Regions from separate parts of the Homo sapiens genome. Here all the other regions are linked to region 1. The links come from fine-mapping of genetic effects on gene expression. A gene starts in region 1. Each other region holds a variant in brackets. All regions are shown on one strand. Distances are from middle to middle.

Region 1 (6,387 bases):
ACCCTTATCAGCTCAAGTGTCCAGGAAAGCTCTAAGGGATCTAAGAGGATCTGGAGTCCAAATGGGGCTTGGCAGTGGATTGAGTGAAGAAGAGATGACACAAAGGTGGACACACAGAATTAAGAAACCAGCAAGATTAAATGGAATTAAAAGGAATCATATAAACTTCCATTTTTGAGTATTTTCGAACAACAGGCTGCTCGAATTCAAGATGGGAGAGATTTAGCTTGGCAACAATTGCTTTAAAATGATCCAGAGATTTTAGTTGATTGTAAACTTAAAATGGGCCAAGAGTATGACACAGTTCTTAAAAAAGCTAGCACATGCTGGGCATGGTGGCTCATGCCTGTAATCCCAGCACTTTGGGAGGTTGAGGTGGGAGGACTGCTTGAGCCCAGGAGTTTGAGACCAGCCTAGGCAGTATAGCAAGACCAAATCTCTGCAAATAATATAAATTAGCCGGGCATGGTGGTGCGTGCCTGTAGTTTCAGCTACCCAGGAAGCTGAGGTGGAGGATCCCTTGAGCCTGGGAGGTTGAGGCTGCAGTGAGCTGAGAGCTGCCACTGCACTCCAGCCTGGGCAACAGAGAAAAAAAATAAAAAAAGGCAATCTTTATATTAAAAAAGAAAATACTAGCACAGGATTGGGCTATGACAATAGAGAAGAGAAAGTGGAGACGCTAAAAGAATACTTTTTTCTGGAAGTAGGGACAAGTAGGAAAAGAGGCACATAAAAGAGCAATTAAAGGGAGATAAGTTTATTAGAACAAATCTTAAAAATGGAAGAGATTTGAATATGTTTATAAGCTGAGGGGAAGGATCTATTAGAGAGGGAAAGAACACAGGAAAGAAGGGATAATTAATGATACAAGAATCTGATGAAGCTGGGAGGAGTTGGTTTTGAACTGGAATGGGGATGCCTCATCCTTGGAGAGACTGGAAGGAAGGCTAAAAGGATGGGAGTGACTGTAGATATGTTGATATGCTTGGGAGGGAATTCAGGCACTTGGGAAGAGCACAGGCTGATGTTTTCCACTTGTTTGATGAAGTAATACTCCAGCGGGACAGGCTCTGCTGTTTCTGACACTGTGTGGAAGGAGACAGAGCAAGGAAGAAGTTGGAAGGGAGGTTGAAAGAAGAGTGCCAGATGGACCTCTTGGTCTTTGTGGTGGGATCAGGAAATTGGTACTTTTTTCCCTCAGTCTCTCTAAGAGCAACACTATTCAAGGGGCTCAGAACCCTTTGAGCCGCACTACTGGGTTTTCCCACCTGCTCAGGACTGCGAGGCCAGACTCTGTGTCAGGGCCATGCTCAAAAATCATAGACTCAAAAAAACCCACAAAAAACTTGAAGTGGAATGCTTAAATTTATTGAGAAAAAAAAGTCTTTGAGAGACAAGCACTTTGATACTCTTATTCTTGCAATCCATAAAACTTCCTGTAAAAATGAACGACTTTAGGCGGGGCGCGGTGGCTCATGCCTGTTATCCCAGCACTTTGGGAGGCCAAGGTGGGCGAATCACGAGGTCAGGAGATCGAGACCATCCTGGCTAACACGGTGAAACCCCGTCTCTACTAAAAATACAAAAAAAATTAGCTGGGCGTGGTGGCGGGCGCCTGTAGTTCCAGTTACTCGGGAGGCTGAGGCAGGAGAATGGCGTGAACCCAGAAGGCAGAGCTTGCAATGAGCCCAGATTGCGCCACTGCACTCCAGCCTGGGCGCCAGAGCAAGACTCCGTCTCAAAAAACAAAAACAAAAAACGACTTTGGTGAAATTACTAAGCAGACAGAATTTACCCAAAGTTGTAAGATACTGAAATGCAGATACAGTTTTTTATTTTTATTTTTATTTTTTAGACAGTCTTGCTCTGTCACCCAGGCTGGAGTGCAGTGGTGTGATCTCGACTCACTGCAACCTCTGCCTCCTGGGTTCAAGCGATTCTCCTGCCTCAGCCTCCCGAGTAGCTAGGATTACAGGCGCACGCCACCATGTCTGGCTGATTTTTGTATTTTTAGTAGAGACAGGGTTTCACCATGTTGGCCAGGCTGGTCTCGAACTCCTGGAACTCAGGTGATCCACCCGCCTCTGCCTCCCTAAGTGCTGGGATTACAAGCGTGAACCACCGCACCCAGCCATGGATACAGTTCTTTATCAGCTAATGGTTAAAAATTAAAGCAAAAAAAAAATGCAAAATAAAACACTAAGAATCACAGACTTTTAAGTGACCAAGGCTGATGAGAAATCATTCGCCATGCTACAAACACGGCCAGAATGTCCGTCGAGGGGCAGGCATTACACACAAAAAATAAGCTTCTTTCTGCCCTCAGGACTGTATGGAGGAAAAAGACTACGAAAATCAGTATCTATAACAGCATGAGATAAGCAACGTGAGGAGAGGCACAAAATGCAATGAGGTGACCGAAAAAACCAAGTCCTCTCATTCTGAGAGGAGGAGCCCGATTTCCCCAAGGTTTTAAAAGAAATAAATAGGGCGAGAGTCAAAGAATCATACTCAGATAACCTTGCAAAATGCGCCCCTCCCGCCCGGCTTCCCGCCTTTGGCACCGACGCCCTCGGGGCTTCCCTCGTGCCAGTCCGCGCGCGCACGCCGGGGGGCAACCGGTCCAGGGCCGCGAGACAGTCACCGCGAGAGGGCGCGAGCCCGAACCTGTCTACGGAAGTCCCGCCCTCACTTCCGGCGGCGGAGGATTGGGAGGGACTGAAGGCCGTTTCCGGCTCTGGTAGTGTAGGGACTTCGGCACGTGTGTCATTCCCCGGGATTTCTGTAGTAACCCTGCTTCTGGTGAACTTGTCTGGCCGGCATTCATTTAAGGCCTAAGGATGAAGGCGGTAAGTGTCCTCAAAAGCCCGGTCGCCGCGGCCTAGGGCCCCTTCGGGTGATAGAGTCACTGCCTGAGTTAGCTTTTAGGCAGGTTTTCACCCGTGTCTAGGGGGCGGTGGTTTAGACTGGGGGCTTTCCATTCCTTACACCGAGCTCATCCTTGGTTACCCACTGTGTGCGCGCACCACTTCAGAGTATCACGAAGAGACAGGCACGGAGTTTTGCATGCGTGGGATTTCATACTTTGAAGGAATTTTTCAAGACCGTCTTTCGAACTCGTTTTTCACAAATGAGAAGCAGGGTCCTACCCTCAGCGAGTTTATAATGTGAGTCACGGTACCCATGAAGGGTAAAGAGATAGAAAAGCAAGTGATTTGTCCTGGTTCTCCCAGAAAATAAGAGGTAGTCCTGGGGTTCAGGACTAACTTTGGGATTTCTGAATGAGTCACCAGCAAGAGAAGTGGAATCCAAAGATCCGAATTCAGTTTTGCCCTCCTTAGTTTATGGGTCTTTTGGCAGCTTCATCAGTAATGTGAGGATAACAGCAGTCAGTACTCAACTAGGCTGTTAGAGGTGATTTGTTGGAGCACTTTGTAAGTAATAAAATCGTAGATAAATGTAAGTTTTATTAAAGACAGCCAGCATTTTGCTTTGAATGTGTTAAACTACAGGTGTGTTAAACTAGCCTTGAATAGCCACTTACCACTACTAGATCAGTGGTTCTTAACCTGTTTGGGGATCGTAGAACCCTTTGAATTGCTGTGAATTGGGATTGAATAACTGATGCTGTAGCGCTCTTCTGTAGGATTAAAGCCATCGTTTGGTTTTAGCTTTTATATGCAAGTCTGTGGCTGTGGGACATTGAAATTGTGGAATTGGTCTAATGAAATTTGTAATCAGTTCTCTTTAACCTGATTTAAAAAATAAGTTTCTGGGTATGCAGTATTCTTTCTGTTATTTTCTAGAGAAGAAATAAAAAACAGATCCCAAGCTTTCGCAAGTTAATAAAAACTAGTAAAGTCAAACTTGAAAACAAGCTAAAAAATAAGCAGTTTAAACAACAAAGCACTCTCAAGAAGTACCGAAAAGAACAGAGGAAACTAAGGCAAGCTGTGAAAGATGCTGTGTCTAAGAAACCCATTCCATTGGAGAACCCAAAGGAAAAGCGACCAGGTAATTGTGAAAACATCATGTGCTCTGGTTTCCATTGATTTATTCTGAAGTGTTCTTCATGGAAATAACTTTGCTTTCTAGTAATCGCTTTTCTTGTTCTCAGATCTTCCTAGAGTGGGTAAGGATAGTAGTCCTATAGGACTGCTATAAAGCATATATGCTTTATCACAGTCAGTATGAGAAAACATTTCAATACAGTATTCATTCAAGCTTCTGCTTTTAGTTTGTCTGGAAGGCAGATCTGAAGATGCACTACTTGGGAAAACAAACTGAAAGTACTCCGTTACATAAATATTGGGCAGTGTGCCAGTGCTGCCACTTTGCCATTCACCAGCAGTTAGGTAAGGTAAGAACATTGCTTGTCTCTGGTTCATTCTTCACAGTATTGCCAAGGTACACTTCTAAACTTCTGACTTTCTTTTCATGTGGAAACTTGGGGTGAAATTGAGTTGTAATTGTCATGGTTATTTTGTAAAACTATCTAAAAATTATTAAGTACTCAAAACTTGTAAGGAATATGACTATTTTGAGTCAGGCTAGTTCTACAACTTTGCTGGTACTTTTAGGGTATTCTTATTTGACTATATCAGATTATTAGACAACTATTCAGTCTTCTCAGGTCCATTTTTTAAAAATTATTATTATTATTTTAAATAGACAGGGTCTTGTTCTGTCACCCAGGCTGGAGTGCAGTGTGCAAAAATAGCCCACTACAGCCTTGACCTCCTGGGCTCAGGCAGTCCTCCTGCTTCAGCCTCCAAAAGTGCTGGAATTGCAAGGGTGAGCCACAGCACCCAGCTAAAGTTTTTTTTTTTTCTAATTTTGTGGGTACATAGTAGGTGTATATATTTATGGGATACATGAGGTACTTTGATACAGGCATACAATGCATAATAATCACATCAGAGTAAATGTGGTATCCATCACCTCAAGCATTTATCTTTGTGTTACGAACAATCCAGTTATACTTTTTTAGTTATTTTAAAACATAAAATAAATTATTGTTGACTATAGTCATCCTATCTATCAAATACTAGATCTTTTTCTAAGTGTATTTTTGTACCCATTAACCATCCCTACTCCTATCTCCTCCAACTGCCTTTCCCAGCCAGTGGTAACCATCATTCTACTCTCTTCATGAGTTCAGTTGTTTTAATTTTTAGCTACCACAAATAAGTGAGAACATGTGAAATTTGTCTTTCTGTGCCTAGCTTGTTTAACTTAGCATAATGGCCTTTAGTTTCATCCATGTTGTTGCACACAGGATCTCATTCTTTTTTGTGGCTGAATAATACTACATTGTGTACATGTACCATATTTTCTTTTATTATTATTATTATTATTTTTTTTGAGATGGAGTCTCTCTCTGTTGCCAGGCTGGAGTGCAGTGGCACGATCCCGGCTCACTGCAACCCCCGACTCCCCAGTTCAAGTGATTCTCCTGCCTTAGCCTCCCGAGTAGCTAGGATTACAGGCGCACACCACCACATCTGGCTGATTTTTGTGTTTTTAGTAGAGCCGGGGTTTCACCATGTTGGCTGGGATGGTCTTGATCTCCTGATCTCGTGATCTGCCCGCCTTGGCCTCCCAAAGTGCTGGGATTACAGGCGTGAGCCACCGCGCCTGGCCCCGTATTTTCTTTATCCATTCATCTGTTTATGAACACTTAGGTTGTTTCCAAATCTTGGCTCTTGTGGATAGTGCTGAATGAACATGGGAGTGCAGATATCTGTTCGGTATACTGATTTCTTTTTTTTGGATTCATGCCTGGCAGTGGGTGGGATTGATGGATTATATAGTAGTTCCATTTTTAGTTTTAGTTTTTTGAGGAACTTCCAAACTTTTCTCCATAGTGGTTGTGCTAATTTACATTCCCACCAAGAGTGTATGAGAGTTCCCTTTTCTCTACATCCTTGCCAGCATTGTTACTGCCTGTCTTTTGGATAAAAGCCTTTTTAACTAGGATGAGATGATATCTCATTGTAATTTTGATTTACATTTCCCTGATGATCAATGATGTTGAGCACCTTTTCATATACCTGTTTGCCATTTGTATGTCTTCTTTTGAGAAATGTCTATTCATATCTTTTGCCCATTTTTTAATGGGATTATTAAATTTAGAAGGCTCATTTAAAGTAGATAGGAGTGCCATTCTGTGCAGTGTGTACATTTATATAGCAAGATTTACTAGGGTCTTTTTTTGTTTTTTTTTTTGAGACGGAGTTTCACACTTGTTGCCCAGGCTGGAGTTCAGTGGCGATTTCTGCTCTGCTCATTGCAATCTCTGCTCTGCTCATTGCAATCTCTGCCTACGGGATTCAAGTGATTCTCCTGCCTCAGCTTCCCAAGTAGCTAGGATTACAGGCATGTGCC
Region 2 (6,387 bases), 140 kb after region 1:
ACATAATATCAAAGGAAAAATAAAAACATTTTTAAACAATCTTTTACAAATGCTTTATCTATTATGCCCCTCAAATGACAAAATATTATGAACAAATATTTATAGAGCACTTATTATGTGCCAGGAGCCATTCTAAGCACTTTACCTATATTACCTCATTTATCTCTCACAACAATTCTAAGAGTCAGGGACTGTTACTGTCCTCAGGGATGTGTGTAAGGTCTTCAACCACGTTGAAGGTAGCAAAGCCTAGGTTTGAACTTAGGGTGTCTTCTCCAGAGGTTGCATTATCAACCACTCACAAAATGCCTGATGTGTTTACACAAACTCTAATGTTCTTCAGTTCTGGGCTTAAAGTTATTCTAATGTGATTCGTTTTTCCTGCTACACAGACTGGAGGACAATATTTAAAAATAATCCATGTCTACACCCTCCCCTTATGATATGCAGCCTCTAAATCATCTGCTTCTGCTCTATGATTATTTTGCTGCCACCTTTACTTTGGTGCTTAGATGCTGGTGTCCACCTAAGTTACCTTCTCTATCCTGACTAGCATCTGGGTTGATAAGCTTGGTTGTCAACAGACCAAAGTCTTGGTCTTGACCTCACATGGCCCTACAAGCTCCGCTTGGTTCAGCATCAGTGCTGAAGCCTGGACAGCAACACTTTTCTCTGGACTAAGTTAGAGAGGCCGGAACACAGAGTTTATGGTGACCCATGACAACTGCAGGAAATAAGAGCTCAAGGTCAATGGCATACTGCCTGTAAGTGGATAAAATGATAAGAATTAATGGCATTGAGTGCTGGCAGCAACCACAGAGGGCAGTGCAACCCCATTTTTCCAGATCGAGAATCTATGGCTCATGGGAGAAGTGACTTTTCAAGGTCACAATTCTTGTTGATGTCAAAAGTAGGACTCCCAGCCCAGTGCTCTTTCATCTGGTGAAAGTTGACAGTTTCTTTCTTTCTTTCTTCCTTTTTTAGACAGAATCTTGCTTCGTTGCCCAGGCTGGAGTGCAATGGTATGATCTTGGCTCACTGCAACCTCGAGTAACTGGGATTACAAGGCCTGCCACCTCGCCCGGCTAATTTTTGTATTTTTAGTAGAGATGGGTTTCACCATGTTGGCCAGGCTGGTCTTGAACTCCTGACCTCAAGTGATCCACCCACCTCGGCCTCCCAAAGTGCTGGGATTACGGGCGTGAGCCACCGCACCCAGCCGAAAGGTGAGTTTTTTCAGACTTGGCTCTGGGTAGGTCCTCCTAAGCACTCAGTTTTGAGCTGCATATGTGAAGGCAGAGCAGGAATAAAAGGAGAAAATACTGAGAAGAGTCCAAAATATGACTAAAGAGATGAAAAAAACAAAATGAATGGTTGCTCACACCTCTTTCCTATCCCTACATAGAAACAAACAGGAAAATCAGAGCAACAGGGAGTTTTAGTGATAAAACAGGTCTATTCTCTGGTATGAGCCAGAGGCACTGGAGTAATTAATAATCTTCCTCTTCCCTTCTGAAACAGACTGAAGCAAAACGTGCTGGGCTACCTGCCACCCTCAAGCTCAGTCCTGAGCCTAGTGGGCTCCCAGCATGTGCCTCTGCCCTCCATCTGTACTGGACTTCACTGGGCCCTCAGGTGGCATCAGGAGAACAGGTCTGGAATCAGACCCTTGGGACAAACCCTGGTCCACATCATCCCAGGAACTGTCTGGGATTCCTAGTGCTGACCCGTCTCCTGCAGCTATGAGTAACCCCTTGCTCACAGTCTCCATGCCTGTCCTCTCACTTGATTCCTTGGTTAAAAGTCACCTTTGTGAAACCCTGGCTCACTAGAGCAAGAAATTATTTTGCTAACAGAGACTGAGTCATTGGTGCATCCATCTAATTCTTCCTTTAGTCTGACTGGCTTTTGATGAGCCCTATCCTAAAATGGGAAACCATCAGCAAACACTTAGCATCATAACCCTACTGACTCTTTGAGTTGGAAATTCAAACACTTCTCACAAATAAAAATGAGATCCTGAAAAGTAAAAAAACAGTTTCTCAAAGCCACCCAACTCATTAGTTGTTGAGGCCTCTGGCTATATTGTCTCTATGGCTTTAGCTCCTTTCTAGTTGAAATTGATGGCAAATCAGGGTCTCTGGAAAGTTGTCATTCTTTCAGGCTGTTCTGATACCATGCATTGACTTACTAGTCCAGTGGCTGGAAAGGGTTAACTCACCTCCCCCTGGAGAGGTCTGCTTCACAGGGCAGGTGGAGACCACCACTTGGTTTGTGTCACAATCCTGATCACTCATCCAGATTTATTTCCTATCAGTCAAATCATTTTCCATATACTTTCCCACAATGCTAGGAAAAAAACAGCGATACCATATTTCACATGGAAACCTAATTTAAACCAACTGTTCCATTGCCGAGTGTGAGTCCCCAGGGCCCTGGTTGTTGAGATTATGTAAGCACTGTTATCATAAACACACACACAGACACACCACACACACACACACACACGCACACACACCCCAACATCTGTTTACAAGCCTCACGGACAATTCTTATTATGGTCTGATGTATTCATAATTTTATAAGCATTAAATGGTGAGAGGGCCACCGCTAGTTATAAAATAATAAATGACACAAAAAGGAAATGAAGATTCAGTGACAAATGTCAAAATGTTGACCAAAGCATAAAAGGTGGTCACATTTACTAAGTGGAAAATGGGATGTGTTGCCAATCCAGAAAGAATTTCTGTGCAATCACACAGAAAAACAAAAAAATCATATAAATATAAAGTACTATGGTTTAGGCATAGGGAGTGCTACTAGAGCAGAAAGGTGTTAATGGTAGCAGATTATTTTGCTTATTTCAATAGTAAGCACAGAATGAGGAGAGAATCTGGCCCCCAGCCCAATTCTTTAAGCACCTCTCCCAGAAGGTTCTGGGCTTACCCTGACATCATAACCCCCTGGACCATGCCCACAACTCCTCCACAACTGCCCCTCCCAAAATATCTTTTTTTCCTTCCTTTTGCTTTTCTCAGTACTCTTGGGCTTAGCCAAATAGAACAGTTTACTCCCTCTCCTCACATCAAATACCTTATTGGTGTCACACATGCTCATTTTGGAAGGAATTTTCTTGCATCATTCAAAATGACCTTTCCCTGGTCCACCATGTCTTGCTTGTGTCCTCTGCAAAGCCAAATCTTTACTTTGGCCCACCAGGCCCCTGTCCATTCTCCAATCACCTCACCTCTCCCCTATATCCCTCCTTTTAGGGAGGTAAAGTAGGCTTTTTAACATCTCAGGAATCTTGAACTGGTTGTTCCTTCTGCAGGAAGGCTTCCCCATCACCCCAGATTCAATTTTTTTTTTTTTTTTTTTGTAGAGATGGAGTATCACTATGTTGCCCAGGCTGATCTTGAACTTCTGGCCTCAAGTGATCCTCCCGCTTCCGCTTCCATAGCATTGGCATTACAGTTGATCCACCACACACGGCCTGGCATTTTATTCATTGAACCCTACTCATCCTTTAGGCAGCACTGCCCTGAGACCATGCCATCAGGATCCTGCCCTGGACCCCAGGTTTCAGAAGGCTCCACACTGGCTGTC[G/A]TCCAGCTGTGCCCTCTCCATAGAGTAAGAAGTCTATGGGGTGGAGGGGACGTGCCTGTCCATAGGCTGCACACTCACTTCTAGATAATTTATCCCTTGTAAACCCACGCTTCCCAAATTCCCTGTCCAAACAGCACCAAGCCCACTGCTGGTCTGCAAGGGCTGTTTATCTGGATCAGTCCTTCAGAGGGTAGATTGTAACCCCTAGGCCTAAAGCCAGGCCAGAGGGCAGTGGGGGTGGGGGTGATGTGTGGACAGGGTTTGAACTTGAGGCCTGAGGTATACATACTCTGGCACACAAGCCAGGATGGGAAGAGAAGGTGGGAAGGCCAACATGCTGGGGCCTCCCTTGTACTCACGCCCTGGCCCCCTAAAGGAAAGGGTGAGGCTGCCTTCAGGAGTCTGATAAAAACATCATTTTCTTGAGCAGAACTTCCTTGACTTCCCACCTGGAGTGTGTCCACACACTGCATGCTCTGTGGTGCCCCCACATCACCCTGACCCTAGCGCACATTTAGTGCTGTGATCCTCATTAAGGCAGATGCTGGATCTGCTATGCTCACGGGTAAGCAGCAGTGTCGGTGACCTGTCAGGATCTGCCCTCGGTAAGTTTAAACAAGAGTCAGCGAAGGAGTGAACATATGAATGAATGAATGAATGAATGAATGAATGAAGCTTACCTCCTCTAGGGAGGCTTTTCTCATGGTTCACCTAGCACCTTTCATTCCATTTCTTCCTACTTCTCTTTGACTTAATGTAGGACCTTGAGTTCAAAGTTTCACTTGTATTCTCACCACTGCATGGATCTGCCTCTGGTTTATTTTTGTTATATTTGTGTGCCTGACTCTTTCACATGGGCCTGTTCTGTCTCCCCCAGCAGACCCTTAGACCTCCAGGACAGAGACCATCTTTCCCACATTTCCAGCATGGAGTTGCTCAGTGTCTCTGGCAGACAGGCAGGCCATCCAGAGTCCCAGGAGGCCGTGGGCAGGGAGGATTCTCAGCTTCCAAACGCTCAGGGATTATATTTGGGAAAAGGCCTGAACACTTCCCAGTGCTGTTCCCAGGTCCAGAAAAAGGAGACAAATGACTTTCTGCCGAAAAGTTTCTTGAAAATGCCAAGCAGAAGTTTTCAAAGAGATGATCATTTGTAATGGGTATCTGGTCATTCTAACTGCAAAGGTTGAATTCAAATGGTAAAGTCTACAAAATATAATGAAAGTCTAGACAGAGCTACTTTCCTTCTTCTTCTTCTTCTTCTTCTTTTTTTTTAGACAGAACTTCCCTCTTGTTGCCCAGCTGGAGTGCAATGGCACGATTTTGGCTCACTGCAATCTCCGCCTCCTGGGTTCAAGTGATTCTCCTGCCTCAGCCTCCCAAGTAGCTGGAATTACAGGCATGCGCCACCACACCTGGCTAATTTTGTATTTTTAGAAAGATGGGGTTTCTCCATGTTGGTCAGGCTGGTCTCAAACTCCTGACCTCAGGTGATCCACCCACCTCGGCCTCCCAAAGTGCTGGGATTCCAGGCGTGAGCCACTGAACCCGGCTATGACAAAGCTACTTTCAAGTAGTTTATGTGTAGTGCACATCCATACCTATCCTCCATGGAGCTTTACTGAAACATCTTGACTAGCACATGTGGGCATGTACACACACACAACATGCACATGTGTGCATGCACAGGCACATACACACACACACACCCTTGCAGAGGCAGTGCTTCTCAAATGTGGAGCACTGACATCAGAAGCACTGGGGGTGGTGTTTAGGTGTTTGTTCAAATGTAGATTCCAAGGCCTCAGACTGAGAAATCAGGCTCTCTTAAGGCCAGAGATCAATAATTTGCATTTTCAGATAAACTCCCTGGTGATTCTTATATGCGCTGGAGTTTGAGAACTCACCCAGGGGCTTAGTGACCTTTTTCTGCACCCCAGGGCCTTGAGTCAGATCAGGCGTCATTTCTGTAGTACCAGCGCAAAATTGTAAATCACCTCTCTGGCCTCACCAGTTAACTGTACCTGAGATTGAGACTGTAACCCATTTGGAACAAGGGGAAGCTGGAGGGAGGCAGCACGGTGTAGTGGCGGAGCCCGGCGCTGGAGGTAGGTAGACCTGTGTGCACTCCCAGCCCCACCGTTTCCTGTGCGTGCCCCTGAGGCAAGCCATCTAACTGCTCTGAGCCCTAATTCCCTTTTCAGTAAAATGGGCATACTGTTTACCTCCTAAAATTGTTGTGAGGGTGAAGTTGGAGAGTGTATCTAAAGATCTCAGCATGATGCTTAGTGTGCAGTTAAGGGATAGATGTTCACTACTGTGACTGCTCTGCTGCTGCAAGTACTGTTGTAGAGATGCTGAATTTCAGGTGACAGAACACAGAAATCCTGAAGACTGGAATCTCTAAATCCCACTTCCTAACTAACAGGCTGGACCAAGAAGAATCTGTGACTGCCCTGAGAAGGGTTTGTGCCCCGAGTACAGTCTTCTCTTAAGAGAAGGATAACTCAAATGTTACCTCTTCTCTCAAGGCTTCCCTGGCTCATTGCTAGGAATAAAAGAGCATGTTTCTATTACAATAGCCCAATCATATATATATATATATATATATATATATATATATATATATATAAAATGTTTAGTTTTTAAGCTTTTATTTCTTTTTAGAAATGGAGTCTCTCTATGTTGCCCAGGATGGCCACAAACTCCTGCCTCAGCCTCCCAAGTAGCTGGTACTACAGGTGCATGCCACTGTGCTTGGCTACATATATGTATGTGTGTGTG
Region 3 (6,387 bases), 66 kb after region 1:
TCCTTGAGAAAATCTTTTGATAGTGACTTCAGTTTACTTAAAATATGCCGGGATAATAACCAATGGCACCAGGTGGACACAGGACTACAGACAGGGCTGGAGATGTGAACCCACCAGCCACTCAGGAAAGAATGAACAGAAATAGAAAATAAAGTTTTTACAACTTTGAAAGTATTTCACAATTATTTCCATTTGTGAGCCCAAATCATACTGTTTTCATAACTTATCAAACACAATCAATGATAGTTAACCTTTGTAGAATGCTTTCTATGTGCCAGGCACTATGCTAAATATGGTACTTCACCGGCATCATCTTATTTAATTTTAACTGAAAGAAGCACATATAACAAGGGCAGAAATGTGACCAATATCTCTAATCATATGTCTTTGGGGCATCCACCAATGGGTGTTGTTGGCACCAGTGCCAGGTAGCTAGCTGGTCCCAGAGCTAAAGCTGTGGTTTGACCTCAGCTGGAGACAAGGCCATACTGTGGTTTGTGGTTCAGCATGGTTAGATGAGATTGGATTCAGTTCACGCGAGATGAATGATAACAGCTGCCTGCCGCTTGACTGTTCAAAGGAAAAACTGTGGTTTATGAAAGAGCTTTTAGGAAACATTTATCTACTCTTACCTTCTGTAGCTCCTCTCCTCCCCCATAACCAAGTGGAAACATAATGCTTTATCCTTTAAACTTCCAGACTCCTTGAATTTATTACTACAAGTCATCCTGCAACCTTGAACAAATTAACCAATTTGTGCCTTGATTTGCTCATCTGAGAAATGGCGATCATAAAGGTACACAACTTTAGGGCTGTTGTGAATATTAAATAAGATAATAGGGGGTCAAAAATTCAGCGTACTGCCTAATGCACAGTAAGCGTGCAATAAACGGCAGCTTCTACTCTGGAGTTTTAGGCGTCATATCAGAGTCTCATTGACATTGGAGAAACATGATCACTACTTACTCTGTTCATGTACTTCACATAGTTGTTTTCCTTTTGCTAGCTACTCTTCGGGCACTGACCATTATTCTCCATCTCAATTCCAAAAGGATAAGACGCTAACATGGTTTTAACTTGCAAAGTGGTTGGAGTGACACTACCTTTTGACTGCAAGAACAACTGCGTAGTGAGACAGGTTAACTGGGCAGTGTTAGGAAATCCCTGCTCCAAAAAGAGCTTTAAACATAAACCGGGCATGGCTTTGTCAAGAGCAGCTTGGTATTTGAAAAACTGCATTAAAAAAGGGGCAGGACCAGGAGACCTTACAGGCCCCTTCAAGATTCTTTTCTATCACCTTAATCTGAAACATCGGAGGCACAATTCAGTATCAAATTCACTTCTGTTTTCCATCATCATATTTTTACTCTCACATATGGTGTGCCCCAGTCTGGAATCTTGCCCCTTTGAAAAAATGCTGTCAAACTGCATTTACTGAAATGTAAGATGCAAAGGAGCGAGGTGAGCATGCAGGCCCCTTACCATCAGTCTGGTAGTTGAGTGCCACAAGCTGTATCCCATGGAGCCAGAACATGAGGGGGTTCGGGTTGGAAGAGTCGATGCGGGTGGCAGCAGGGTAAGTTCTCAGCAGCTGACAGGCGGTGTGCTGGGTCAGTTTCTGAGAATACCTGCGACACAGACGTTTGGCGGCATTTTCATTCAGCGACGAGATATGATAACATTTGGGAGTTCTAATGATAGCACTGAGGGACGTGGTTGGGTTGAGAGGGGAAGAAGATTCCTCCCAGGTCTGTCGAATGCCTTCACAGGAACCTAAACCCCCCAAGAAATTAGCCGCAGATTAGTGTAGAAAACTTTAAATATTTTAGAAAGATAAACCTGAACAACATCCCAGTAAACAGTCATAGCATATAAACCACATCAGAATACCTCTTGGATTTTACTTGTGAGTTAGTTCGCCACTTTAAAACAACATGGTGGCTACTTAGTTTTAAAATGAGTGTGGTGGCTGGGTGTGGTGGCTCATTCCTATAATCCCAGCACTTTGGGAGGTCAGGGTGGGAGGATTGCTTGAGCCCAGAAGTTCAAGACCAGCCTGGGCAACATGGTGAGAGCCCATCTCTACAAAAAGTAAAAAAATAAAATAAAACCAAACAAAAAACCCCACACAAGAAACAAAACAAAATGAATGTAGCAACATCAATTTAAATTAAAAGCCTAGAAGTCCTTTGCCTCAGTACTTCATTTGGGTTGTGGTATATTTGCACAAATAAACAATATATGTACAAGGATATTCACTCCAGCATTGTTTTTCATAGGAAACAACAAAATCAAACCAAACCAAGAAGCAACCCAAATGTATCAGTGAAGAAGTGATTCCATAAATGACAGTATATCCATGCAGTGGACCACCACACAAGCATTAAAGAGAATAAGGAAGCTATATGTACAGAAAATTATGTGAAAAGTTATAGCAAATATAAAGTTATACATGTATGTTTGGTTATACAGGCATACCTTGTTTTATTGTGCTTTGTTTTATTGCACTTTGCAGATACTGCACTTTTTTTTTTTTTTTTTTTTTTTTTTTTTTTTTTTTTACAAATTTAAAGTTTGGGGCAGGCCTGCCTCCAGCAAGTTTATTGGTACAATTTTTCCAACAGCATGTATTCACTTTGTGTCTCTGTGTCACATTTTAGTAATTCTTGCAACATTTCAAGCTTTTAAACATTATTATTATATCTGTTATGGTGATCTGTGACGAGTGATCTTCGATGTTTTATTGTAATTGTTTTGGGGTGCCATGGACCATACCCATAAGATGGTAAACTTAATTGACAAATGTGCGTGCTCTGACTGCTCTACCCACCAGCCCTTCACCCATCTCCCTCCCTCTCCTTGTGCCTCACGATTCCCTGAGACACAACGATACTGACATGAGGCCAATTAATAACCCTACATTGGCCTCTAAATGTTCAAGTGAAAGGGAGAGTCACACGTTTCTCACTTGAAATCAAAAGCTAGGCTGGTCACGGTGGCTCATGCCTGCAATCCCAGCACTTTGGGAGGCTGAGGCGGGTGGATCACCAGAGGTCAAGAGTTCGAGACCAGCCTGGCTAACATGGTGAAACCCTGTCTCTACTAAAAATACAAAAATTAGCCAGGCACACGCGCCTGTCATCGCAGCTACTCAGGAGGCTGAGGCAGGAGAATCGCTTGAACCCGGGAGGTGGAGGTTGCAGTGAGCTGAGATCGCGCCACTGCACTCCAGCCTGGGCAACAGGGTGAGACTCTGCCTCAAAAAAAAAAAGAAAGAAA[G/T]AAATAAAAAGCTAGAAATAATTAAGCTTAGTGAGGAAGGCATGTCAAAGGCCAAGACAGGTTGAAAGTTAGGCATTTTGCGATAAACATTTAGCTAAGTTATGAATGCAAAGGAAAAGTTCTTGAAGGAAATTAAAAGTGCTACTCCAGTGAACACACAAATGATAAGGAAGCCAAACAGCCTTATTACTGATATGGGGAAAGTGTTAGTGGTCTGGATAGAAGATTAAACCAGCCACAACATATTTTAAGCCAAAGCCTAATTGAGAGTAAGGCCCTGAACTCTCTTCTGTTTTATGAAGGTTGAGAGAAGTGAGGAAGCTGCAGAAGAAAAGTTGGAGGCTAGCAGAGGTTGGTTCATGAGGTTTAAGGAAAGAAGTCATCTCCATAACATAATATCAGCAAGTACTGATGGAGAAGCTACAGTAAGTTATTCGTAAGTTCTAGCTAAGATCATTGATGAAGGTGGCTACATTAAACAACAGAATTTTTTTTTTTTTTTTTTTTGAGATGGAGTCTTGCTCTGTCGCCCAAGTTGGAGTGCAGTGGTGCGATCTTGGCTCACTGCAAGCTCCGCCTCCCGGGTTCACGCCATTCTCCTGCCTCAGCCTCCTGAGTAGCTGGGACTACAGGCACCCGCCACCATGCCCAACTAATTTTTTTTTTGTATTTTTAGTAGAGATGGGGTTTCACCGTGTTAGCCAGGATGGTCTCGATCTCCTGACCTTGTGATCCACCTGCCTCAGCCTCCCAAAGTGCTGGGATTACAGGCATGAGCCACCACACCCGGCCAAACAACAACTTTTTATTGTAAATGAAACAGCCTTCTATTGGAAGAAGATGCCACCTAGGACTTTCATAGCTAGAGAAGATAAGTCAATGCCTGGCTTCAAAGAAAAGGCTGTCTCTCTTGTTAGGGGCTAATGCAGCTGGCGACTTGAAGTTGAAGCCAATGCTCATGGACCATTCTGAAAATCCTTAGGGCCCTTAAGAATCATGCTAAATCTACTCTGCCTGTATTCTATAGATGGAACAACAAAACCTAGATGACAGCACATCTGTTTACAGCATGATTTTTCATGTCTGCTAACACAGTATCCAGTCTGCAGCCCATGAACAAGGAGTAATTTGAACTTTTAAGTCTTATTTAAGAAATAAATTTCATAAGGCTAAAGCTTCCATAGGTTGTGATTCCTCTGATGGATCTGGTGAAAATAAAATGAAAACCTCCTAGAAAGAATTCACCATTCTAGACGCCCTTAAGAGCATTCATGATTCATGGGAGGAGGTCAAAAGAGCAACATTAACAGAAGTTTGGGAGAAGTTAATTCCAAACTTCATGGATGACTTGGAGGGGTTTAAAACCTCAGTGGAGGGAGTAACTGCAGATATGGTGGAAACAGCAAGAGAACTAGAAGTATAGCCTGCAGATGTGACTGAATTCCTGCAATTTCGTGATAAAACTTGAATGGATGAGGAGTTGCTTCTTAATGGATGAGCAAAGAAAGTGGTTTCTTGAGATGGAATCTACTCTTGGCGAAGATCCTGTGAACATTGTTGAAATGACAACAAAGGATTTAGAATATTTCATACATTTAGTTGATAAAGCAGCAGTGGGGTTTGAGAGGTCTGACCCCAATTTTGAAAGTTCTACCATGGCCGGGCGCGGTGGCTCACACCTGTAATCCCAGCACTTTGGAAGGCTGAGGTAGGCAGATCATGAGGTGAGGAGATCGAGACCACCCTGGCTAACATGGTAAAACCCCATCTCTACTAAAAATACAAAAAAAGTAGCCGGGCGTGGTGGTGGGCTCCTGTAGTCCCAGCTACTCAGGAGGCTGAGGCAGGAGAATGGCGTGAACCCGGGAGGTGGAGCTTGCAGTGAGACAAGATCTTGCCACCGCACTCCAGCCTGGGTGACAGAGCAAGACTCCGTCTCAAAAAAAAAAAAAAAAAAAAAAAAGTTCTATCATGAGTAAAATGCTATCAAACAGCATTGCATGATACAGAGAAATCTTTTGTACAAGGAAGAGTTGGTTGATGTGGCAGACTTCACTGTTGCCTTCTTGTAAGAAACTGCCAGACACCCTAGCCTTCAGCAACCACCCCCCTGATGAATCAGCAGCCATCAACGTTGAGGCAACACCCTCCACCAGCAAAAATATTACAACTTGCTACAGGCTCAGATGATTGTTAGCATTTTGTATCAATAAAGTATTTTCTATTGAAGGTATGTACATTTTTTTGACATAATGCTATTGCACACTTAATAGACTATGGTATAGTGTAGACATAACTTTTATATGTACTGGGAAACGAAAAAATTAATGTGACTCATTTTATCGTGATATTCACTTTATTGTAGTGGTCTGGAACCGAACCTGCAATATCTCCGAAGTATGCCTGTATCCCATTTGGATTATCTTAAAAAGGATCTTATTTTTCTTGAACAAAACACAATAAATTTAATAGTGGTTACTTCTGGAGAATAGCACCAGGACATTGAGTGGAAAGGAATTTTAATAATACTCTGTATTGTTTGAGTTTTTAACTACAAGAATTTATTACTTTCATAATAAAAAGTAACTAGAAATAAAATAGCCATATCTTCTGGAGTTATAATGGTGAAGAGAACAGCTCCAAGAAACCACTAGAATGTTCCAAGAATGTTCCAAGGTGCCTCTAATTTTTACTCGTGAGGCAAACACTGTTCAAACATCTTCAGTGAAATGTTATTTTTATTTTTTAATTTTTTAATATTTTTTTGAGACAGAATCTTGCTCTGTCACCCAGGCTGGGGTACAGTGGTGCGATCTCAGCTCACCACAACCTCTGCCTTCCGGGCTTAAGCGATTCTCTTGCCTCAGCCTCCCTAGTAGCTGGGATTACAGGTGTGCACTACCACACCCGGCTACTTTTTGTATTTTTAATAGAGATGGCGTTTCATCATGTTAGCCAGACTGGTCTCGAACTCCTGACCTCAAGTGATCCACCTGCCTTGGCCTCCAAAAGTGCTGGGATTACAGGCATGAGCCACTGTGCCCAGCCTGAAATGCTGTTTTTAGTACGTTAAAAGTGTAAGTTAGCAATTACAAAAATTTATACTAT
Region 4 (6,387 bases), 890 kb before region 1:
ATGGATTCTGATAAGAAATCTGCTGTCTTTTGAATTGGTTTTCCCCTCTAGATAAGGCGTCATTTTTCTCCTACTGCTTTGGAAATTCTTTCTTTGTTGTAGTTTTCAGAAATTTACTATGATATGTTTTGGTGTGGATTTTTTTAGGTTTATCCTGTTTCCTGTTCACTTCACTTCTTTATGTCTTTTGCCAAATTTAGGACACCTTCAGACATGATTTCTTCTAGTACTTTTCTAGTTCCACCTTTTTTCTCTTCTTCCAAGACTCCATTGACATGAATTTTTGATCTTTTATATATTCCCATAGGTTTGTGAGGCTCTTCATTTCTTTTTTTTCTCCCCATTCTATTTTTCTATGATCTTGAAATTGTATAATTTCTAATATTCACCTTCCAGTTCACTGATTCTTTCCTTTGTCTCCTTCATGCTGCTGCTGAGTGTATCCACTGTGGTTTTATTTCAGTTATTTTGTCAGTTCTAGAATTTCCATTTCATTCTTTATATCTTCTGTTTGTTGAGACTTTATTTGTTTTAAATGTGCTCATAATTGTTCATTGAAACATTTTTATGATGACTGTGTTACCATCTTTGTTAGATAATCCCAACATCTCTGTCATCTTGGTGTTGGCATCTCTTTATTGTCTTATTTACAGTTTGAGATCTTCCTGGTTCTTCTGAGAGATGTGATTTTTCAACTGAATCTTGAACATTCTTGTTACTATGTTATTAGATTCTGGATCGCATTAAAACCTTCTGTATTCACTGGCTTCCTCTCAGATATGGGATTGGGGATGCTGCCTCATTACTGACAGGTGGGGGTAGAAAGTCCACTTTCCCCACTCTGCCTATGTCACACCTGAGGTCATTGGGGCCACTCATTACTGCTGGATGGGGTGGGAGTTCTGGCTCCCCATATGGCTTCCACTGACACCTTATGGGTGAGTGGTGGCCTAGACACTGCTGAGCAGTGGTGAGAGTCCTGATTCTCTCCTAGGTTTTCTTCATTACAGCTGGGTAAGGATGAAATATGGACTCTCTATTGGGCTTTCTCTGAATCTACCCCAGTGAGATAGTTGGGGAACCACATCATAGCCTGGTGAGACTAGAAGTCTGGACCCCCCACTTGGCCTTTTCTGGCATTTGGCTGGAGAATAGTGTTGTTTCAATGTGTTGTGTTTTGCTGGGCTGCCCCTTTCTGGTTATTTGGTCAGATACAGCAGGCTCCTCTTGAGACTTCTTCTGTCTGTGCCCATTGCCCTTTCCAGGTTGCTGCCCTCCGCTCCATGTCTGGGATGTCCAAGGAAACAAGAACACCCTGGGAGCTCACCATCGTGGTCCTCAGGACGTGGGGTCCCTAGCCAGTGTGGCTTCCGTTGCCCTGTCAGAGTCTTCTCATGTTGTTTTATATGTAATGTCCAGGGTTTTTGGTTTTACTGGGTGAAACAGGGAAAAATATGTCTACCTCATCTTCTCAGACAGGAAAAATATTTTTATGAGGAGACCATCTTCTCCTGTCTGGATGCTTTCAATAATTCACGTAATCCCCGTTTCTATTCCAATTTTTATCTCACATACAGGTAGTTTTATTAAAGTATCAAAATGTTCTTACTGTGTGAGAAAATGACCCTACTAAGGTTGTATCAGCAATGAGGATTTTTTTCTTATGGCTGTCTTGTTTTAGCAACTTCTGCCTCCTAGGTTCAAGCGATTCTACTGCCTCAGCCTTCCAAGTAGCTGGGATTACAGGCACACGCTGCAGCACCTGGCTAATTTTTTTTGGATTTTAGTAGAGATAGGAGTTTCACCGTGTTGCCTAGGCTGGTCTCGAACTCCTGAGCTCAGGCAATTCACCTGCTTCGGCCTCCTAAAGGTGTGAGCCACCGCACCTGGCCTAGCTGAGATTTATATACAGATAATTAAGTTGCTGCCACAGATGATGGCCCAAGTTAAAAAAAAAAAAAAGCCCCTTATATCCTCACTCTGGGCACTTCATGGTTCTGATGGAGTAGACTTTCATCCCAGGGTTGCTGTGCTGACCCATGCTCCAGAGCCATGGGCGTACTGCTTTCCATCCTCCTCGTCCTTCTGACCCTCACCCCAGCTGCCCTTTTGGCTGGAGCAGGTGTGAGAAACACATAAGGTCTGCAGGCTCAGCCTCCAAAATCCTCCTCTGGGAGGTGGGCTCAAGGGGAGTTTCTGCTTATGTTCTAAAGACCACTAGGATCCTCCTACGCCTGGCTGTGTCAGCCATCTTATTTGGCAGGGATGGGAGTGGCTTGGCTAGAATAACCCTGGGGCCCTCAGGTCACGTCCTAAAATAGTGGGAGAAAATATTAAACATTTAGGAAACAGATACACATCAGCTCCCAGGGAGAAACAAGAACTAGGAAACTTTGTGTAACGTATTGTTACTCCAAAGTAGTTGAATTTGCTTAAACTCGTTATTAAAACTGTATAGAGTGGGTTCAGAAGAAAGTGTTCATTTTCACTGTTACGCCGTCAAAACTTTTTCTCCTGGAGACTGAGTGGTGTGTATTATATTTTCTGAAGCCATATCACTGTAATATTCTTTCATTGCTGTTTTTAATATAAAAACGAGAAATTTTTTGCTCCATTTCTCCTTCATATTTTTGTCATCATTTTTTAAGATATTGTGGTATCATGTCAATACCTTGTAATCTAGTGTCTAAGACTTAGACGTTGGATCTTAGGATGTTATTTTTGAGTCAGGTGTATCAATACCTTAAGTAAGGTAATAGATATTGAGAGTCCTTTATAAATTGTCCAGTGGTTTAAAGATACTATCATTATTTGAGAAAAATGGTAAGTTTTTTTTTTTTTTTAAATTATAGAAATCCCTCACAAGGTGATTTGCTGGAAGAATATGTGATGGCCTTGTGGTCTGGGTTCTGTCATTTTTTTGGTGTGTTCCATTGGTGGCTTCCAGACATAACATACACCAAAGAAGAAGAAAAATCTTTCCCAAGAACATTCCATAGTCTGATCTCAATTTTAAAATAGTCCTAAGTGTAATAGAAAAAAGATTTATCCAAAAATAATGTAATATGCTTATTATGGGGCAAGTTCCAAACTCAGGACTCAAAGAGTCAGGCATATAACTCAAAGAAAGGGCTGGAAAGTGAGACAAAGAAAGACCCTTGGTTAAAACAACTCCCCCAGGTGGCCCCATTGCCTGCCCTGAGAGGCACCCACAGTTCCCTGCAGGTGGGGGAAGAGGCCAAGCAGGAGTGGGCAGGACAGGCAGGGATAGCTGCTTTCCCTTCCCCAAATGCAGCCGGCCGGAGTGACCAACCCATGAATCTTGCTACTTAAACTCTGACCTTCTTTGGTAGCCATGAAGCATATGCCACTCTTTGGGTGCCTTTTCCTTTATTGTGAGAACATGGTTGGAGTGGAAGGGAAACACCTGGACCTTGATTGCTATGATTGACTCTGCCTTTAGCTGGGGACCTGAGTACTGAACGTGCCCCAGAGGTTGTCTCAGAAAAGAGAAAGGAAGAAAGGAGAGGAAGAGAGGGAGAGGAAAAGGGAACTTGCGGAGAATTACCCAGGGAAAACATATACCCTGGAAATGAGTAAGCGTAACTGATATAATTCATTTGCACCTGTGAAAGTGGCTCCAGCCCTAAAGAGAGTCTGTTTAGAGTTGCTGAATAAAACCACTCCTGGCCACTGCCTGCATCTGTAAAGCTGGGAGGCAGC[C/T]TGGTGGGCTGGAGACTTTATAGCTTTATTACTCAGGAAGCACAACTTGTTTATATACAAATCTATCCATCTGCATCAATAAATTGCCCCACCATCTGATATTTGCTCTTTGGTTCCACTGGGCACACTGGCCTTTCTCCTTAGCAGCTCAGCTGAGAGGAAGGTGGTGATCTGGGGCCAGGAGGTGGGGCTGCCCATGTCCCTGGCACAACCCTCAGAGGCTGGCTGCCCTGGAGGACCTCGTGAGCCTGCAGGAACAGGGGGAGCACAGCAAGGAGGAAGGAGGCCCTGGACCCATTCTGCAGTGTTCGTTCACTTGCCTGATGCCTGCTGCCTGCTGAACTGTGACCTGTGCCAGGCACTGAGCCGGGCCTGGGAATGTGATGGGGAGCAAGACAGGCCATGCTCCTGCCCTCCTGGGGCTTACTTTCCAGGGGGAGATAGACAACAAAGAAATAAGGGAATACACTGGAATCCATGGTGAGAGAGCAGGTAGGGAGTTAAGAGTGATAGTGGGGATGTGGCGGACTGTTTGGAGTCGGGGTCAGGAAGGCCTCTCTGAGGAGTGCACTTGAGCAGAGACCTGGATGAAGCATGGGAGCCATGACAACACCTGGGAAGGGCATTGCAGGCTGAGGGTGCAGTAAGTGCATAGGCTGTGAAGCTAGTGTTTCCCAGGCACAGCGGGAAGCCTGGTCTCAGTAGAGCAGAGTGGGCCAGGGCTGGCAGGGGATGTGTGTGGAGGGAGAAGTTTGGGTCACATATGTGAGGGACTTTCTCCTCTGTGATAACATTTACTCCAAAAAAGTTGAATTTGATTAAACATATATTTTAGTATTAAAACTAAATATTTTGTGCTAAGTCAAATGAGAATACATTGAGCCACAGCATGACACAGTCTGATTCATGTTTAAAATATCATTCTAGGCCAGGCACTCTGGCCCATGCCTATAATCCTAGCGCTTTGGGAGTCCGAGGCTGGAGGATCACTTGAGGCTGGGACTTTGAGACCAGCCTGGGCAACACAGCAAGACTCTGTCTCTACAAAATAATGACAAAATCAGCGGGGGATGGTGGCACACCTGTAGTCCTAGCCACTCAGGAGGCCGAGGCAGGAGGATTTATCTATTGAGGCCAGTAGTTCGAGGTTACAGTTACCTGTGATTGCACCACTGTACTCCAGCCTGGGTGACAGAGTGAGTCCCTGTCTCTAAAAAACAAAAAATATCACTCTGATATTTTGAATAGAGGCCATCACTTTGGCCTAAGCATGGCATGGCTTGGACCTGGGGGAGGTGGGGAGGTGAGAAGGGGTCAGATGGAGGATAGATTTACAGGTATAGCTGATGAGAGACTACCTCCCTGTCACCGTCCACTGCTTAGAAAGTGGAGCCCTCAGGGAAAGAGGCAGGCTCTGCCTGTCTTATCTTGTTCTGGGTCACCCAGCATGACAGGAGGAAGGTGGGGAAGACAAGGCCTGGCTTGCCCAGTCCCTGGGCCTGAACATCAACAGTTCACAAAGCACTTGCGTGTCCCATCCTTACCACCAAACTGTGAACCAGGCAAGGAAAGTACTGTTACCTCTGTGTTATAGGTGAGGAGACCCAAGTGCCTGGCCTTGAGAATCAGGAAGTATTTATAGACAGGGAAAGCACTGTGAGATCGTCGGGAATGAATAACACTATGATTCCTGCTTGTGCAAGCAATGTTTGTGGCCCATACAAGGGGGACCCGGCTGAGTTCTTCATGGTTGGCTTGTGGTTGACATTTTTTTTTCTCTAAATTTTCTCTGGACATAATGCTGCTGATGGAATTTATAAAGAGATAGAGCATTCTCATTCCACTGGATTAGGCCAAAAAGTAATTGAGCTACTGAAGCTATTTAGAAGAAGAGCCTCTGATTGCATTGAAGCAGCAGCCAGCTCTGACTACAAAGACATCTCAGTTTCACTGTGCTGGCAGCAGGTCTGTGGCTGATTTAGGAGAGGGCTTTGAGATCATTTCTATCCATCCTTCAAATCAGCAGTGTCTGCCTGGAGGAGGTTCCTGGTGAAGTTATTTTTAACTTCTGTCATGTCCTAATCAATTTTTCAAACATTCTTTACAGCTTAGACCATGCTCAGCCTCCAAGCAGCCTTGTCATCGACAAAGAATCTGAAGTTTACAAGATGCTTCAGGAGAAACAGGAGTTGAATGAGCCCCCGAAACAGTCCACGTCTTTCTTGGTTTTGCAGGAAATCCTGGAGTCTGAAGAAAAAGGTAATCAGCTCCATCTGCAGTCAGAGGCTCTTGTTCAAGGTCAGATGTGAGAGTCAGTCATTGTGGAAGCACAGGTGAACACACTCTGGAGCCTGCTTTGGAGGGCATGGGCTTTTAAAATGCTGAAATTCTTTAAAAAGAGATAGAGGGAGAGAGAGAGAGAGAGAGGAAGAGAGTGCTGACCACATTTTCCCATCTGGGTCTGTATTTAAGAAACTCCAGGCCTGGCCAACTGTGTCCTGTCACATGTGCAAGAGGATGCTAAGGTTGGGGTGAGCCTGACTGCTGTGGGAGCCTGTTGGTCTGTCCCTTGGCCATTTATTTGCTTTGAGCCCAGAAACAATACCTTGGTAGTGGCTGAGGAACTTCAGTGATGAAGGCCATGGGCAATGAGCAGCAGAATGA
Region 5 (6,387 bases), 440 kb after region 1:
GGACTCTTTTTCTCTGACTGTCGTCACTTGCCTTTTCTCATACTTAACTCTAAGAGCTTCTTTTCTTTTTCCATGCAGATGTCAGAAAGGAAAAAAAAATGTATAACAGAGGGCATCTCCCTACTGGAGGTGAGTACTCACTGGGAGTGAGATCATGCAGTGAAGTGGCTGAGAACACAGGACATAGGGGTTAGGCTGATGTGACAAAGAGGTCCTGACAAGCTACTTGTGGCTCAGCAAGACCTCAGAGAAGAGCATCCTTCACCTTGGCCCTGAGTGGCCTTTGCTTTTCCTTTCTTTAAAACAATAATAATCTCTAACACTTATTAGGGATCCGCCATTGTGCTAAGCTCTTTAACTCCATGATCTCATTTAATTCTTGCAATGTTCCTGTAAAATGGAGACTAGTAAAGCCATTTCACAGATGAGGAGACTGAAGCTCAGAAAGGTGATATTATCTGCCCAAGAGTCACCTAGCTAGTTAGAGATAGATAGAGCTAGAATTCAAACCCAGCATGGTCTGACTCCAGAACTGAAACTGTTAACCACCATGCCAGACTGTTTTTTCCAGTATAATGCACTTTTTACATGTGTACTGAAACATTATGAGGTGTTCAATAAATCCAATTTGAAAATATTCATTGGCCTGGCGTGGTGGCTCACGCCTGTAATCCCAATATTTTGGGAGGCCAAGGAAGGTGGATCATTTAAGGTCAGAAGTTCAAGACCAGCCTGGCCAACATGATGAAACCCTATATCTACTAAAAATACAAAAAGTAGCTGGGCGTGGTGGCACATGCCTGTAATCCCAGCTACCTGGGAGGCTGAGGCAGGAGAATTGCTTGAACCTGGGAGGCAGAGTTTGCAGTGAGCCGAGATCACACCACTGCACTCCAGCCTGGGCGACAGAAGAAGAGCCTGGGTGATGCAGGGGGACTCCGTCTCAAAAAAAAGAAAAAGAAAATATTCATTAGCTGGGGGGCATGGTGGTGTATGCACCTATAGTCCCAACTACTCAGGAGGCTGAGGCAGGAGGATCACTTGACCCAGAGTTTGAGGCTGTGGTGCTAGCTGTGACTTCGCCATTGCACTCCAGTCTGCAAAACAGAGTGAGACTCTGTCTCAAAAGAAAAAAAATAAAAATAAATCAGATACTTGGTGCTATCACAGTCAAGCATTTACTTAAAGTTTCAAAACCATCACTTTTCATTTGTTTTACAGGTTAAGTAAAATAATGTTATATTTAAAATTTCACCCCTGGAATTTTATCTGCATTGTAAGGTTGGTACAATTATGTTTCTGCATTGCCATATTAAGCTCAGTTAACTCAATTTGAAGCTATTTAGATTTTCTGATTTTAGTAGGATTTGTTAGGTAATTATACATCTATATCTATGCCTGTCTAGCTGTCTATCAATACACCATTTGGCTTCTAGTTCTTAGCTTACTTATTTTACTTCTACTGAAATACAGTAACATTTATAAAATTAAAAGCTAGGCCAGGCATGGTTACTCATAGCTGTAATCCCAACACTTTGGGAGGTCGAGATGGGAGAATCATTTGAGGTCAGGAGTTCAAGACCAGATTAAGCAAAATAGACCTGTCTCTGCAAAAAAATTAAAAATTAGACAGGTGTGGTGATGTGTGTCTTGGTCCTAGCTACTCTGGAGCCTGAGGCAGGAGGATCACATGAGCCCAGAAGTTTGAGGTTAAAGTGAGCTCTGATTGTACCACTGCACTCTAGCCTGAAAGACAGAGAGAGACCCTATCTGTAAAAAAAAGGCTGGGCATGGTGGCTCACGCCTGTAATCCCAGCACTTTGGGAGGCTGAGGTGGGCGGATCACAAGGTCAGGAGATCAAGACCATCCTGGCTAACACCGTGAAACCCCATCTCTACTAAAAATACAAAAAATTAGCCGGGCGTGGTGGCGGGCGCCTCTAGTTCCAGCTACTCGGGAGGCTGAGGCAGGAGAATGGCATCAACCCGGGAGGCGGAGCTTGCAGTGAGCTGAGATTGTGCTACCGCACTCCAGCCTGGGCGACAGAGCAAGACTCTGTCTCAAAAAAAAAAAAAAAAAAAAAAAGTAAAAATAAAAGGTAAACCATAAGCACTCAAACTTTATAAAAACTCTCTTATAAGTATAAGGGGTCAGACAGGCAGGACACCAAAATTATAAGAGCTAAAATTATATATAATATAATATAATCATGGCAAAGCAGCTTGTATGTTCTCTTGCTATTGTACAGTTTGTCATTACGATGTCATGAGCACCTGCACAAAGCAGATGGACCTGAACATTATCCAACATTTCCTGCAGGGCAGCCCCCGGGGCTGTGAGAGCATGCTTATTTTAACAATTTGTTGTGAGTGGTCCTGAAAAGTTCCTGAATTTTTTGAATAGTTTAGAACTACAACCTTCATAATCAGTTTACAGGAAGTTCGAATAATTGCTCTAAGATGGCAGAAGTTTCACTCCACATTGTTTACCAATATGATTTAATCTGGCCGTTTAAATTAACATATTGATGGTCTGAAATATATATACATGTTGTTTTTACTATTGTTTTCAAATGAATGAGGTATGTCTTTATCTTCTGACATGAAAAATTTTCGTGATATACTGTCTAGTGGGACAGAAGTTTCGGGACAGAATGTACCATATGATTCCATTTTGTAAAAATTAATCAATCAATTAAACAAACAAATCTATATGTATCTATCGAAAAGAGAATCCAGCTAGGCATGGTGGTGTACATGTGTAGTCCCAGGTACTTAGGATGCTGAGGCAGGAGGATAGCTTGAGCCCAGGAGTTCAACGCTGCAGTAAGTTCATACTACTGCAGTCCACTCTGGACTACAGAAGGAGAGCTCGTCTCTAAAAAAATGGGAAAAAAAAGAGGAGAAAAATAAAAGAAGAATCCACTCTACTACTTAAAGGTCAGGGGAATTGAGCCTTCCATTTATATTTTACATTTCTGTGTTGCTAATTTTTTAACTATATGGAAGTTTATTAATGATGCAATCCCTGATTTAAGATACAAGAAATGCATCAGAAATCCAGATGTCAATGTCCTATACAGATTCTTGCTTTGAAAATATGTTCTGAGAGCAATGTGATTGCAGTCCTTGGAAAATCTTCTCTGACTGTTGCTGCAACTTTACTTATTTATTTTAAATCTGTACATATTTAATGCATACAGCTTGATGAGTTTGGAGATAAGTATACATCCATGAAACCATTTCCACAATCTATGCCATAAACATATCAATTACCTCCAAAAGTTTCCTCCCACCCTCATTATAATTTGTGTTAAGAACACTTGACATTGATCTACCATCTTAGCAAATTTTTAAGTATAAAATGCAATATTATTAACTCTAGGCACTATGTTGTACAGATGTCTAGGACCTATTCATGTTGCATAACTGAAATTTTTTGTGCCCTTTGACCAATAGTTCCCCATCTTCCTTTGCCATATGGCCCTGGCAACCACCATTCTACTTTCTGATTCTACGAGTTTGACTATACCTGATACCTCATATAATTGGTATCATGTAGTATTTGTCCTTCTGTGTTAGGCTTATTTCACTTAGCATAATGTGCTCCAGGTTCATTCATGTTGTCGCAAATGGCAAGATTCTTTCTCTTTTAAGTCTAAATAATATTCCACTGTATGTATATATACACCACATTTTCTTTATCCATTTGTCCTTTGGAAATTTAGGTTGCTTGCACGTCTTGGCTATTGTGAATAATGCCGCAGTGAACACAGGAGTGAAGATATCTCTTCAGTATACTGATTTTGATTCCTTTGGATATATGCCCAGAAGTGGGATTTTTTAATCATATTATATTTTTAATTTTTCAAGAAACTTCCAAACTGTTTTCCACTGTGGCTACACCAATTTACGTTTCCACCAACAGTGTAGAAGGATTCCCTTTTCTTTACTTTCTCGCTTGTTGAATTTTTAAAGTATCACCTTTGAAAGATAAATACAGTATTTTTTAAAACAAAAATATTTCTCCAGGCATGGTGGCTCACGCCTGTAATTCCAGCATTTTGGGAAGATGAGGCAGATGGAT[C/A]GCTTGAGCCCAGGAGTTCGAGACCAACCTGGCCAACATGGTGAGACCCTATCTCTACAAAAAATACAAAAATTAGCTGGGCTGGTGTCATGCTCCTGTGGTCCTAACTACTCGGGAAGCCGAGATGGGAGGATCACCTGAGCTTGGGAAGTTGACACTGCAGTGAGCTGAGATCAAGCCCCTCCACTCCAGCCTGGGTGACAGAGTGAGAACCTGTCTCAAAAAAAGAAAAAAAAATCAAGAAACGCAAGCCACTGGTTTCCACAGCAAGTCTTGACCATAGCTCCACACCACAAGGGGGTGCTGTGGGATTCTGAATGAGTCACATCACTGGCACCTCAGTTTCCCCTCTGTAAAACGAGGATAACACCCCCCTCACCGGGAGGTGGCGGAGCTGAAAAGATGTGGCTGTGAAAGCGAGTGGGTCTGAGTGGGTTCTGGGAGACTGCCTTTAATTTTCCTAAATTTGAATGGGGGTTGGGATAAGGTGAGACCAAAGAATCCCTGTTCTGGTCGATTATGTTTCTAAAACTAGAACTAAGAATTCAGTGCTTAGCTTCCTCCTCTGACCTAAGTCTCTTCTCACACTCCTATTCAAAGTGCTGGGGTGGAAGGAAGCTTGAAGTCACCCTGTCCTCAAAGAATCTGACAAAAGTTATGCACCTGAATCCCAGAAAACTGCATGGAAAGCTGAATTTTAAATATAATTCCTGGAGATTCCCAGGCCCACGTGAAGGATCCTTCATTGATTTAATTCAGGCACCTTATTTTACCCAGGAGAACAAAATTTAGAAATTAAGGCCACTGAACCTGGCTGTTAATGGCTCACAGATTCCCCATCCCCAAGAATTGCTCTGGGTATAAGACCCACCTACAATGCAGTGGTGTGATTTATGCTCCTGAAAGCACATCCTCTGCCAGGTGCAGTGGCTCAAGCCTGTAATCCCAGCACTTTGGGAGGCCCATGAGGGTGGATCACCTGAGCTCAGGAATTCGAGACTGACCTGGGCAACATGGCAAAACCCCATCTCTACAAAAAATTTAAAAAGTAGCCTGGTGTGGTGGCAGCTACTTAGGAGGCTGAGGTGGGAGGATTGCTTGAGCCCTGAAGGCAGAGGTTGCAGTGAGCTGAGATTGTGCTACTGCACTCCAGCCTGGGTGACAAAGTGAGACCCCGTCTCAATACATACATAAATTTAAAAAAGTGCATCCTTGCTTGCCTCTTTCCCCCTCCCTGGTCTGTTTTCCTCATGAGCTTTTCCTGAAGAGCATATGCCCAGTAAATCACACACACCTCAACCTCTGTCTGGGGCTCTCCTAGGGAATCTGACCTCATACTAGTACCAAGTGTCACTGGCATCATTTTATAGATTCCAGACATTGATAACATGTGATGACAATACACTGATAAGATATCTAACTGCTCTCTTCACTTTATAAAATCATGCTTGGGACCTCAGAGATCATTTAGTCATCTTAGAGGTGAGGACATGTATTATATATATGTAGATATATACTTTATATTATTTATATATTTATTCTCCTGCTTTTTCCACTTAATATCATAACATGACGATTTCTCTTTACTTCTTTTTTTGTGGCTCCATTTGGTAAGCTTTGTAAAAAGAACTTGTATTTGGGGCCGGGTGTGGTGGCTCACACCTGTAATCCCAGCCCTTTGGGAGGCTGAGGTGGGCAGATCACCTGAGGTCATGAGTTCAAGACCAGCTTGGCCAACATGGTGAAACCCCGTCTCTACCAAAAATACAAAAAAATTAGCCGGACATCATGGTGGGCACTTGTAATCCCAGCTACTCGGGAGAATGAGGCAGGAGAATCGCTTGAACCCGGGGGGCAGAGGTTGCAGTGAGCTGAGATGGTGCCACTGCACTCCAGCCTGGGTGACAGAGCGAGACTCCATCACAAAACAAAACAAAACAAAACAAAAACAAAAACAAAAAACTTTTAAGTTCAGGGGTACATGTGCAGATTTGTTATATAGGTAAACCTGTGTCTTGGGAGTTTGTTGTACAGATTATTTCATCACACAGGTGTTAAGCCTAGTACCCATTAGTTATTTTTCCTGATCCTTTCCCTTCTCCTACCCTCTACCCTCTGGAAGGCTCCAGTGTCCACTGTTCCTCCTCTATGTGTCCATGTGTTCTCAACATTTAGCTCCCACTTATAAGTGAGAACGTGTGGTATTTGGTTTTCTCTTCCTGTGTTAGTTTGCTAAGGATAACGAGCTCAAGCTCCATTCATGTTCCTGCAAAGGACATGATCTTGTTTTTTTATAGCTG

Direction of the effects. Positions count from the first base shown, and alleles are read on the strand shown. Sizes are in standard deviations (SD) of each study's normalised expression. Not every link is listed here.
As copies of A replace G in region 2, the expression in uterus of the gene that starts at base 2,740 in region 1 goes up (moderate effect, 0.43 SD a copy in GTEx).

The links.
Region 2: its variant is fine-mapped to the expression of NOC3L in uterus (GTEx, PIP 0.96).
Region 3: its variant is fine-mapped to the expression of NOC3L in whole blood (TOPMed, PIP 0.98).
Region 4: its variant is fine-mapped to the expression of NOC3L in whole blood (INTERVAL, PIP above 0.99).
Region 5: its variant is fine-mapped to the expression of NOC3L in spleen (GTEx, PIP 0.95).

Annotation. Positions count from the first base shown.
Region 1 is chr10:94,359,292-94,365,678 of GRCh38, reverse strand. NOC3L (NOC3 like DNA replication regulator) reads left to right here and starts at 2,740. Exons shown (of 21, transcript NM_022451.11): 1 at 2,740-2,849; 2 at 3,807-4,014. The coding sequence starts at 2,841. RefSeq lists a silencer at 2,537-2,666 and an enhancer at 2,807-3,066.
Region 2 is chr10:94,220,225-94,226,611 of GRCh38, reverse strand. The region is part of intron 4 of PLCE1 (phospholipase C epsilon 1); the gene reads right to left. Among named protein-coding and RNA genes, the nearest start is that of PLCE1-AS1, 64 kb to the left of the region's middle. The variant G/A (reference allele first, on the strand shown) is at 3,607.
Region 3 is chr10:94,293,765-94,300,151 of GRCh38, reverse strand. It overlaps PLCE1 (phospholipase C epsilon 1), which reads right to left. Exons shown (of 33, transcript NM_016341.4): 24 at 1,483-1,773. Among named protein-coding and RNA genes, the nearest start is that of PLCE1-AS1, 9.9 kb to the right of the region's middle. The variant G/T (reference allele first, on the strand shown) is at 3,280.
Region 4 is chr10:95,246,810-95,253,196 of GRCh38, reverse strand. PDLIM1 (PDZ and LIM domain 1) reads left to right here. Exons shown (of 7, transcript NM_020992.4): 5 at 5,831-5,982. Among named protein-coding and RNA genes, the nearest start is that of PDLIM1, 41 kb to the left of the region's middle. The variant C/T (reference allele first, on the strand shown) is at 3,724.
Region 5 is chr10:93,919,537-93,925,923 of GRCh38, reverse strand. No RefSeq gene overlaps it. Among named protein-coding and RNA genes, the nearest start is that of SLC35G1, 29 kb to the right of the region's middle. The variant C/A (reference allele first, on the strand shown) is at 4,088.